2 separate regions of the Homo sapiens genome follow, and region 2 is linked to region 1. Evidence: fine-mapped expression QTL. Tissue or cell type: whole blood. Region 1 holds a variant in brackets; the other region holds the start of a gene. All regions are shown on one strand. Distances are between the middles of the regions.

Evidence for each region. PIP is the estimated chance that this variant, and not a neighbour inherited with it, causes the effect.
Region 2: LINC-PINT starts here. The variant in region 1 is fine-mapped to the expression of LINC-PINT in whole blood (INTERVAL, PIP 0.92).

Annotation. Positions count from the first base shown.
Region 1 is chr7:130,953,390-130,958,536 of GRCh38, reverse strand. All of the region lies in intron 5 of LINC-PINT (long intergenic non-protein coding RNA, p53 induced transcript), which reads left to right. Among named protein-coding and RNA genes, the nearest start is that of LINC00513, 42 kb to the right of the region's middle. RefSeq lists an enhancer at 359-418 and a silencer at 1,220-1,269. The variant C/T (reference allele first, on the strand shown) is at 2,229.
Region 2 is chr7:131,106,893-131,112,039 of GRCh38, reverse strand. It overlaps LINC-PINT (long intergenic non-protein coding RNA, p53 induced transcript), which reads left to right and starts at 2,115. Exons shown (of 8, transcript NR_170176.1): 1 at 2,115-2,303; 2 at 3,237-4,320. It also overlaps a transcript of MKLN1 not described here. RefSeq lists silencers at 550-609, 1,760-1,909, 1,990-2,039, 4,097-4,156, 4,177-4,226 and enhancers at 327-868, 3,263-4,114.

The sequences.
Region 1 (5,147 bases):
AAGTCAGGAGTTCAAGACCAGCCTGGCCAACATAGTAAAACCTTGTCTCTACTAAAAATATAAAAATCAGCCGTGTGTGATGGCACACTCCTGTAATCCCAGCTACTCAGGAGGCTGAGGCAGGAGAATTGCATGAACCTGGGAGACAGAGGTTTCAGTGAGCCGAGATTGTACCACTGCACTCCAGCCTGGGTGACAGAGTGATACTCTGTCTCAAAAAAACAAAACGAAAACAAAAAAAACCTGTGACTTTTGGTTACTCCCCTTCTGTAGAAAAGATGAGCAGGTATTGAGAGAAGTAAACTGTAAACTTGCAGAGGAGTTAAAAACAGACTCAGGTTTTCTTGAACAGTGGACATGGTGGCACTGTCCCTTTGTCATGAACATAGTCCACATATGCCATTACAAACTGTTGACAGTACTGTAAAATATAACACATTCTAGGTAAGGTATTGTCTATATGGTAGATTAAATCAGAAATACAAAGGCTGGGTGTGGTGTTTCACGCCTGTAATCCCAACACTTTGGGAGTCTGAGGTGGGTGGAGCACTTGAGGTCAGGAGTTTGAGACCAGCCTGGCCAACATGGCAAAAACCCATTCCTACTAAAAATACAAAAGTTAGCTGCACGTGGTGGTGCACACCTGTAATCCCAGCTACTTGGGAGACTGAGAAAGGAAAATTGCTTGAACCTGGGAGGCAGAGGTTGCAGTGAGCTGAGATCACGCTACTGCACTCCAGCCTGGGCGACAGAATGAGACTGTGTCTCAGGAAAAAAAAAAGAAAAGAAAAAAAGGAAAAAAGAAGTACAAGTGTGAGGTTAAGTTACTCAAGCATGTGCACACATAGTGTTCCCTATTGTTATTTGAGGCTTGCATTTTTAATTTCATAGAGCTTTTTCTTGTAGTTCTTTTTTGTTGTTGTTGTTGTTGTTATGTTGATGTAATTCTCAAATATTTCCAGGAATACTAATAAATTGGGGGTTTTTTTTTAGTTTTTTTAGAAAAAAATCTTTTTCTTAAATATTCTGTTTCTTTTTTGTTATTGTTGTTTATCTTGGTTTTTCTCTTTCATGTTGCAGACTTTTAAAATATATATTTGATTTTCTTTTTAAAAATGAAGTGCCATTACGGCTGCCTAGAAGTTCTGCATGACAGCATCTGCCTCTAGCAGGCTTCAGCCTGGGTACACAGAGCCACCCTGAGCCCTCTTGCTGGGGAACTGCTAGATGTCAGAATGAGGAGGGCTTGACTGTGGGGTTCTCTTAACCACACTAGCTATTTAGTCTTCACCAGACGTTTGTTTAATTTTTTTTAGAAAATTATCTCCCTTTTCTTATTTTTGCTCTGAAGTGGGGAAGCTATAAGGTTTTTTTTTATAAAGACAGGAAGTAGTCATGAAAAGAATAATTGTTATTTCCAGACTTTTCAATTACTCTTCTCCTTTCTACCTTTCTTGTCACTTCTGTCACAGTTCTTACTTTTCCTGAGTCTGGAGCCTGTTTGGGGTCCATCTGAATAAAATCAACTCTTCACTGCCTTGGCAGTACCCGCTCAGAACTCTCCGGGCTGTAAGCTGCCTCTGCTCAGCTTCATCGCTCAGTGCTCTCCCCACATCCTTCTGGCTTCCTGACATTTGGTGAAATCTCTCAGGCCCCTGAAACTTGTTGTTGTTGTGGGTCTACATACCCCTTTTATAACCGTAGTGGGGTCTTCCAGGCGCCCTGACCGCCATCATGAAAGGAGAAGTACTTTCATTTGTTGATTTGTCAGAAATATATCTGAACAAGTAAATTGGAAATACCTTTAGTCAGGCATTTAGCCAGGAAAAAGATTAGATGGAGCATGATGACTGCAGTGGGTACTGGGGCTTGGGAAAACAAACCCTCACAATTACTGGATTGGGAGGAAACAGTGGGCTGACACTATTATACAAAGATACACTTTCCAGCCAGTAAAGACATAGCCATTAATCATAGAGCCCCATAAGAGGATCTTTTAGCTTTGTTGCTAGAAGAAAGTTGCATCTTGTAAAACATCCAACTTAGTCATTTAAAAAAATCTTTAAGTAGTGGTACTTGTTCCTGATCTTAATACAAATTAAATGTGGATACGCTTGCTTGATTTCTTCCCTGCCCTTTAGCATAAGAGCTTCTGAGAGAATTTCCTATTCTTCCCTTCTGTACTATTTATTTCTTGGGCTATAGACCCTCATACTCCCTCTTCTTTT[C/T]CTTATAAGAAGCAATTCACATTCTCTTTTCCCATCTCCTTTGTGGAAAAAATCTCCAAACCCTTGTTAATTATCCCTTTGTCATGTTCGTCAGGTCGGTCCTGAAAGTGTCAGCAGACACTGTGAAGATGGGAAAAGTAAGATGTTGACTAGTTCTTTAACTTTTGTGACACAAGTGGTGTCCGTTTGTGTCAGAAGAAAGCCTGAATTGATGTTTCCATCTCATGCTTCCCTCCTTTTACTTAGAAAGCAGTTTCTTTGTGAAAAATCCCTGGAGATCTTTCTCAGAGGTATTCCACAGTTAGGGCCAATTACTGCAACATGATGGAAGCTTTAGGTTCTTCTCAGGCCTAGCCTCATTTCTAGCACAATACTAGGAGGCTAAAATCTATCTCTAAAATTTGCAAAGTAATAGTGATGGATGTTAGCTATTTTTAATGTAGCTGCTTAGAGACAGTTGAAGATAGTAAGGGTCATAAGGGCCTTCTCCTATCTGACCTCTGTACCCCTGTAAGTTGTTTACCAGCTTAGAGCCTCCTGTACAGTTCTAGATCAAAGAGCAAGTCCTCTGAGGCCATGCCCTTGGAAGCAGAGATGGAGAGTAGTGAAATCTACTTAGCTCTGAGGGTGTGAGCTCCCAGGCAAGCAGAACACACTTGGGATTTTATTCCTGGTATTGACCAGAACATCTATCATCAGCCTATGCCAAACACCCCCTTTCCACACCTTGTTTCTCCCACCTATTTCGCATAACTTCCTAGAGATGAAGAATGTTTCTGAGTGTGGATTGTCAGATGTCTGCTGAAAAATGGTGGGCCTAAAAAAAACATTCTGTGACTGCAAGAATGTAGAACACTCCCACACTGGTTCTGGGACCTGGCCTATTGGTTGGCTATTACTGTTGAATGAGAGGAGAACCAGCAAATTCTTTCTTTTCCTCTGGAGGAAATACCTTGTATGGATGGTCCCCCAGAGAAGAGAGAGCCATGGCTAGTTGTGAACTGAAGTAATCCAGATACAGGCACCATTTGATGGGATCTAAGTGTGCGAATCAAATTGCATTCTTCAGGAGGACATGGGGATGTCAAGACAATTAAGGAAATCCTACCATCCCTCCATTTTAATTGATGTAAAATTTACATGCATTGAAATGCACAGACATTCAGTGTACTCCTGTTCCCAGACCCCAGTTAAGAGAGAGAACGTTTCTATCACCAGGTTTCCTCTTGCCCCATTCAGTCATTCGCCACCCTCACTGGCAAAAACTTTCTGCTTTCTATCATTGCAGTCTTGTTCTTGAGCTTCCTCTAAATGGAATCATGCAGTATATACTCTTTTGCGTCTGGCTTTTTTTTTCACGCAACAGTTTTATATAGTTGTCTGTATCATTCTTCCTTTATTGCTGGGTGGTATTCCATTGTATGAATAGACCCAATTTTAAACTCTGTTCTCTTGTTGACTGACATATTGATTATTTCCCCATTTTTGGCTACTATGAATATTAAGCTGCTGTGAATGAGTTTTCTCTCACTCTCACTCTTTTTCTTTTCTTTCTTTTTTTATTTTTTATTTTGAGACAGTCCCACTGTGTCACCCAGGCTGAGCTGCAGTGGGGCAATCTCAGCTCACTGCAACCTCTACCTCCCAGGCTTAAGCGATTCTCCTGCCTCAGCCTTCTGAGTAGCTGGGACTACAGGCACGCACCACCACACCTGGCTAATTTTTAAAATTTTAGTAGAGATGGGCTTTCACCATGTTGGCCAGGCTAGTCTCAAACTCCTGACCTCAAATGATCCACCAGCCTCGGCCTCTCAAAGTGCTGGGATTACAGGCGTGAGCCACCACACCTGGCCCACTCTCACTCTTTTTTAGGTTTAATTGCTGCACCGTACACTAGGTGTATGTGTACCTCTGTAAGAAACTGCCAAGTCATTTTCCAAAGTAATCGTACCATTTTACACTCCAACAAGCAATTTATGAAAGTTCCAGGTGACCAGGTATCTTAACATTGTATATTGCTGGTTTTTCTACTTATAGTCGTTCTCTTGGATATGAAGTAGTATCTCATTGTAGTTTTCAATTTGCATTTTCTAGATGAATCACATATACTTATTGGCCATTTGTGTATCTTCCCTTTTGAAGTGTCTGTTCAAGTCGTTTGAGTCTGTTTTTCTTTTGCCTGTTTTAAAATTGGATTGTCTTATTATTTTGGTTGGTAGGAATGTTATACATATTCTGAATAAAATATTCTTGTCAGAAGTTTATAATGCAAATATTTTGCCAGTCTATGGTCTACCTGCTGTTTTTTAAAAGTGTCTTTTGATGAGCAGAAGGTTTTAACTTTGAAATAATTTCATTGATCAAAAATGTTTTTCCTTTGCGAGGCCAAGGCAGGGGAAGATCGCTTGAGCCCAGGAGTTTGAGAGCAGCTTAGGTAACATAGCAAGACCTCAACTCTCTACAAAAAAATAAAATATATTTTTAAAAATTAAAACAAAGATTTCTATATTATCTGTATTTTTTGTTTCCTAAGTAATCTGCCTCCCCAGGATTGTGCAGATATTTCTCTGTGCCTTCTGTTAGAAGACTTATAGCTTTAGCTTTTATGCTTTAGTTTATGATCTATCTCCAGTTGATTTTTATATATGGGGTTAAGTAGAAGTCAAGGTTCATATTTTTGCATACATTTTCCCAGTTGTTCTAACATGGATTGTTGGAAAGACTTTCCTTTTTCCATTGAATTGCTTTGGCGCCTTTCTTGAAAATCAGTTTTCCATATATGTGTGGGTCTATTTCAAAGGAACTTAAAGAATGTTTATATAGACCACATGCGGCATGTACTCAAGTCTAGGAAATAACAGTTCACATTGGTCAACCCTCAAGTGACTGGCATACTCTTTAACTTCTATATCGTGAAAC
Region 2 (5,147 bases), 150 kb before region 1:
GGAACTGAAAACAAACAAAACAAAACAAGGTTGTCTTGTCCAGGGACATAGAGGAATTGGTAAAAAAGACAATTAGTACACAAAGTGATGGGGTTTCCTATTTGTAGTGTAGCCTTGTAGTCACACTGTGTTCTCCGAATGCCACAATGCTAACCCAAAATTACTTGTCCTTCCTGGGCCTGGATTCCATTCAATTTTATGCCTTGTTTAGTCTAAATGATTTCCCCAGCTTCGACATGTATTTATTTATTTATTTATTTATTTATTTATGCGTTTCATTTTAGAAGTATACTTAAATCTACTCTTTACTCGAGTTTGTCTTAGTTCTAGTGCTGAGGAATGAAGATTCTGGGTAAAAGAAATCAAGATGATGTTTTTTTTTTCTAGGCTTTACATTTCAAGGATTGTTTCTCAAATGGCAACTGGCAGTCTACTCCTCAAATGATGACGTTTTCCACAGGAATTACAATTTAATTGGAATATTTTGTTTTCAATGGGAAGCAAAGATTTCTTTCCAAGAGGATCAGTTTGATAATGTTTTACCAGCTAGTGCTACGAGACCAAATATAAACCAGTTCTGAGAAACAGGAAGTGAACTGACTGGTCTAGTCTGAGTGTCCCTGGCAGTGACGCAAATACAGAAATCAAATTAGGAAAACAAGATATGTGGGTGTGAGGCAATCGATAATAATCCAGGATGCTACAACATAAGCAAGAATGCCTTTAACCCGATGCCATTCATTTTAATAACACCCTGAGCAGTTTGATTTCCACGGAACACGCTGGTGATTAGAGAGCAGCAGGAGCTTGGGTTCCCTAGCAACAGCATGTGCTTTTGAGACAGTCATTAGCCTTTCAGTTAATCCCATCAACCCCTTACCTCTAAATGTATGACTGACATAAAAAAAATGATGTTTTAGAAAGTGCTTTGAAATTTCCAGGAGTGCAATGGAAGGGAATAATCATAATTAAAAAGTTGTCTGGAGAACTACACTCCAGTGAAGGAAGTAATGTTCCTACGTGCCAAGCCTGTCCGTATATTTCCCTGCTCTCAGTTGTAGGTTTCTGAATCCCCTGTGGCAAAGGGCAAGGGAGGTGAAATTGTTCAGAGTTTCAGGCAGTCTTCTCACCTAAAGTGAGTAGTATTGCAATGTCTCTTGGAATCATGGCTCTGAAGATGAGGAGAGAAGCGGGATGGGCAGTTTGTGTGGTGAGGAGGCTGGCTGCAGGTAGGCTGGGAGGGAATGTCACACATAGTTTTCTTTCTCCTTTAAGCCGAATGAGGTATGCTGGTCAAAGGAACTTGGGGAAGGAGGATGGTGAGGGGAATGAAGTTCTTCTTCCTATTGATTGTTTTGTTGCACCAGAGGCTGTTTGTCCAAGGCCACTGGCCAAGAGCATTATTTTCGTGGCTAAAGTGAGGTTGGGCAGGTTTCCCATCCCTTTCACTAGTTTTGAACAAGACAACCCAGAAAGCGCAGCAAGGCTCTGGGAATATGATGTGGGTTGGCTTTTCCTACTCAGCTGCACCTTAAAGCGCCAGGCCGATGGGCTGATACTTCTCAAACCCTGAATCATTGCCTCCAGCTCTGTCCTGGGTTCAGGATGCACCACTCCACCCTCTGTGTAGCTTGGGGTCAACTTCGGGGCGTCACTCCAATAGTAATTATTGCTGCGTTTGGCTGGACATCCTTATTACGGCCTGGGTCCCTCTCAGCTGGAAACTGGGCTCCTTCAGTTTGGCTGGGGTGACTTCTAGCACTTCCCGCCGCCCCACCTTACCCCCCTGCGCGCTCCCTTCCCAAGGCGACCACCTGCACCGCCCCACTTACCATCTGCCCCGCGGGGAGGGCCCCCCGGGCTAGCGGAGCCCTCCCTGCTCCCGGGCGGCTCTGGAGGAGCTCGGTGTTTGCCTCTAGCCCTTCGCTACCGGAGGATCAGGTTCCTCCCCTCCTCCCCCTCCAGCTCCGGCCGCCGCCGCCGCCGCCGCCGCCTCCTTCTTGCATGACACAGCAGAACCGCAGCTGCTGCAGCAATTTCAAGCCATCCGCCCAGGAAGCGCCGCAACCGGGACTCGGGAGGGGTGGAGGGGGCGAGGCAGAGGCCGCGGCCCCAGGGGATCCTTGGCCCCACTGTGCACCACACACTCCTTTCCCAGCCCAGGGGCACGCGAACAAAATGAGGCTCAAGCTGACCAGGCCGAGCCGGAGGAACGCTGGGGCTTGGCAGCAGAAGGGATGGGACCAGAGAGAAGGGTGTGGAGGAGACCCCAGTGAGGGCCAGGACATTTCAGGTAAAGAGAGGTAAGAAGAGGCCCAGAAGTCAAGGGCCAGACTGTGAAGGTGATTAGAGGTCAAAAGAGGTAAGGAGGTAGAGTTGCAAAGAAGAGAGGCCGAGCTGGGAAGGGCGTGGGGGTGGGGGTAGCTGCAGGGGAGGGTGGGGGGTACAGTCTTTGGGGAGGCCCGAGCTGAGCCCCCAGGCAGAAAAGGGGCTGAGTTGGGAGGCAAGGGAGGTAGGAGGAAAGGGATGAAAAGAATTAGGCATGAGATAGGAAGGTAAAACTTGGGAGAGATATTATAGAATTAGAAGGGTTGGAATGGAGCTCATTCATCATGGCTGATGAAGTAAACTGATGAGGTGGAGAGAGACAGAGTCAAGGCAAGGCCAAACGAAAAGATCTTCCATCCCACTCTTCAGTTTCTTGCGAAGTTTTTCTTGATTCCGCCAATCCACACAGTTTCCTTTATAAAATGGAAAAGCATGAACTAAAAAACCCAGAAATAGCTATCTGGCTTAGATTTACAGGATAAAATCTCCATGTCTGTAAAAACTTTAAGGCAGAAATTTGGGATTTATGGTACAAACCCTTTAAGGGACTGTGAGTCAGTAATACCCACAGCACTCAACATTGTGAGTTTCCACACATCCCTGGACTTGAGTGAGTCTTTCCAAGTGTTTGTTAATGGTACAAATGATGACAAAATTAGTGGTTCAAAAATATTAAAGTGCACATGCTTTTTGCTTTCTCTATGTATACAGAGATTACATATATGTATACTTTCTAGCGTCTAGCAAGTATGGTATGGCTAGGGATAATTATGTTTTTCTGATTATTTTGTTTCCCATCAAACACCCCACGAATTTTACAGCAGACCGCCTTCTTGTCACCATTTGAAAGAATGTGGTCAGAAAAGTAATGCAAAAACTGCCACTTTGGTTTTGTCTGTACCTTCCAGGTCATATCTCCGTACCTCACTTCCTGACACAAACAAGTTTTCACTGTTGTCAGCAACAAAGCCCTAATATAGCTGCGGAAGAGAAAAACTGCATTGCATTTTGCCTCCTGCAAGCATCATCAACAGTTACTGGAGGAACGTAATTCCAGAAAGCTTGAAAGCCGTGGTGATGGTAATTATGTATCAAATGCCTGGTTCTATTTCTGTTATTATTGTTTTGTCATTTCTGTTTTCCCAGCGATCTGACTGAACTCGCAGAGGGACAAATCCAGTTTTTCTTTTTGACTTTTGTCAAACTAAATCAGGCCTGATAGAAAACTCATTGCTCTCCGGGGAAACAAAGTAGGAGCCACGAAATGTCATTTTAACAGAGCGTGGGTTTGGTGACTGTAGGAAAGGATTTGAGGACGCTCCTTCTGTTCGGCTTCCTATGTCATGAGCACAGGCTCCACGCACGCACAGACACCACGGCTCCCGGATGCTGTGGCTCCCCGATCGGGGCTCCTGCAGCGCCAGAAGCCCCTCCGGGATGCTTCGAGGGGCTCCCGGTGGGTGGAGGTACGGACGCCGCTGCGGCCGCCGCCGCCAGTCCTGCTGCTGTTGTTGCTGCTGCAGTCACGTGGGAGCCCCTTTAAGTTTCCATAGAGAGGCCTCTCTGGTGTCACATGATGGACATGATATAATGAAACAACATTGTGGAGAGGAAAGCATTAGGGGAGCCCACGGCTACAAAAACAAGTGAGTGAGAAGAGGTGGGAGGAAGAGAAACTACGCCACCTCCCCTGCAGCCGAGTGCACGCAGCAGCCTGGCGTGACAAGTGGGCGACGCCGGGGGGCAGGGAGCCGGGGTCCTTGGCCCTGGCCGGGGACCCCACCGCCCACCGCGCGGAGGACAACTTTTAGCCGGCAGCCCAGACCAGCGCGGCACCTGTCTCCGGAGTCTCCACCGCTCCTCCCGATTCATCCCAGGGAAATTCTCAAGAATACGCTCTACAAATCTACGTGCGCATCATTTTCACCTCGCGTCGCGCCCGGGAGGAAGGAACGAGGCAAGGAGCTAAAGCAGCGTGCGTTCAGCCCTGGGGTAAGTTCGTCGGGTGGGGAAGCCGGTCCCGCAGGACTTTGGGATGGGAATTTTGCTCTCCTTTGCGATCTCAGGGCGTGAAGAAGGCGTCCCCTCCGCTGCCGGCGGAGCTGATCGGCTGGCTAGTCAATTTCCCCTTAGCACGCCCCGTGCGCCCACCCTCGCTCAGCCCGGGGCCCCCTCGCCGTCCCCCGGAAGGGGTCTGCGGTTCCTGGCCAGGACGTTCGGAAGGCGAGCGGGGGAAGGTAGGGCTGTCGCGGGAACCCGGCTTGTGAGAGCGATTTCGCCATGTTTGTGTTGCTAAGAGCACTTTTTCCCCTTTGCTGTGGCTTGATGCCACATGGCTCCTCCGGAGCTGCTGCCGGGCTGAGAGAGTGTTTTTTTTTTTTTTTCAATGTCCGCATTCCAGCTAATGTTGCGCAGATAAAATTCAAACTTGAGGTAAACAGAAGAAGAGGAGGAGGAGGAGGAGGAGGGGAGGGGGGAGGAAGGGGGGACTGTTTCCATTTCGAGATCCCACCTCTTCCCTCCGCGCAGCCCAACATCCCGAACCTAGAGACAACTCTTGCCTTTCTCCCACGTCCCCCACCTTTGCTGTCAACAAGAAATAAAGGCGGGGCGGGGGGGGGGGTTGGAGGTAGGGGGTGGCGTGCTTATTAATTAGAAAGGACGCGGTGTCTCGGTTCTCCACTGGAATCAGCAACTCCCTGGAACTCGGGCCTCTGGCCCCGTCCCTCTTTTCTCCGGCAGGGACGCAGGATGCCTTGGTGCACTCTAGAGACGGGGACCGGAGGGTGCAGCGCGCCTGGGTGGGGCGAAGGGCGCCG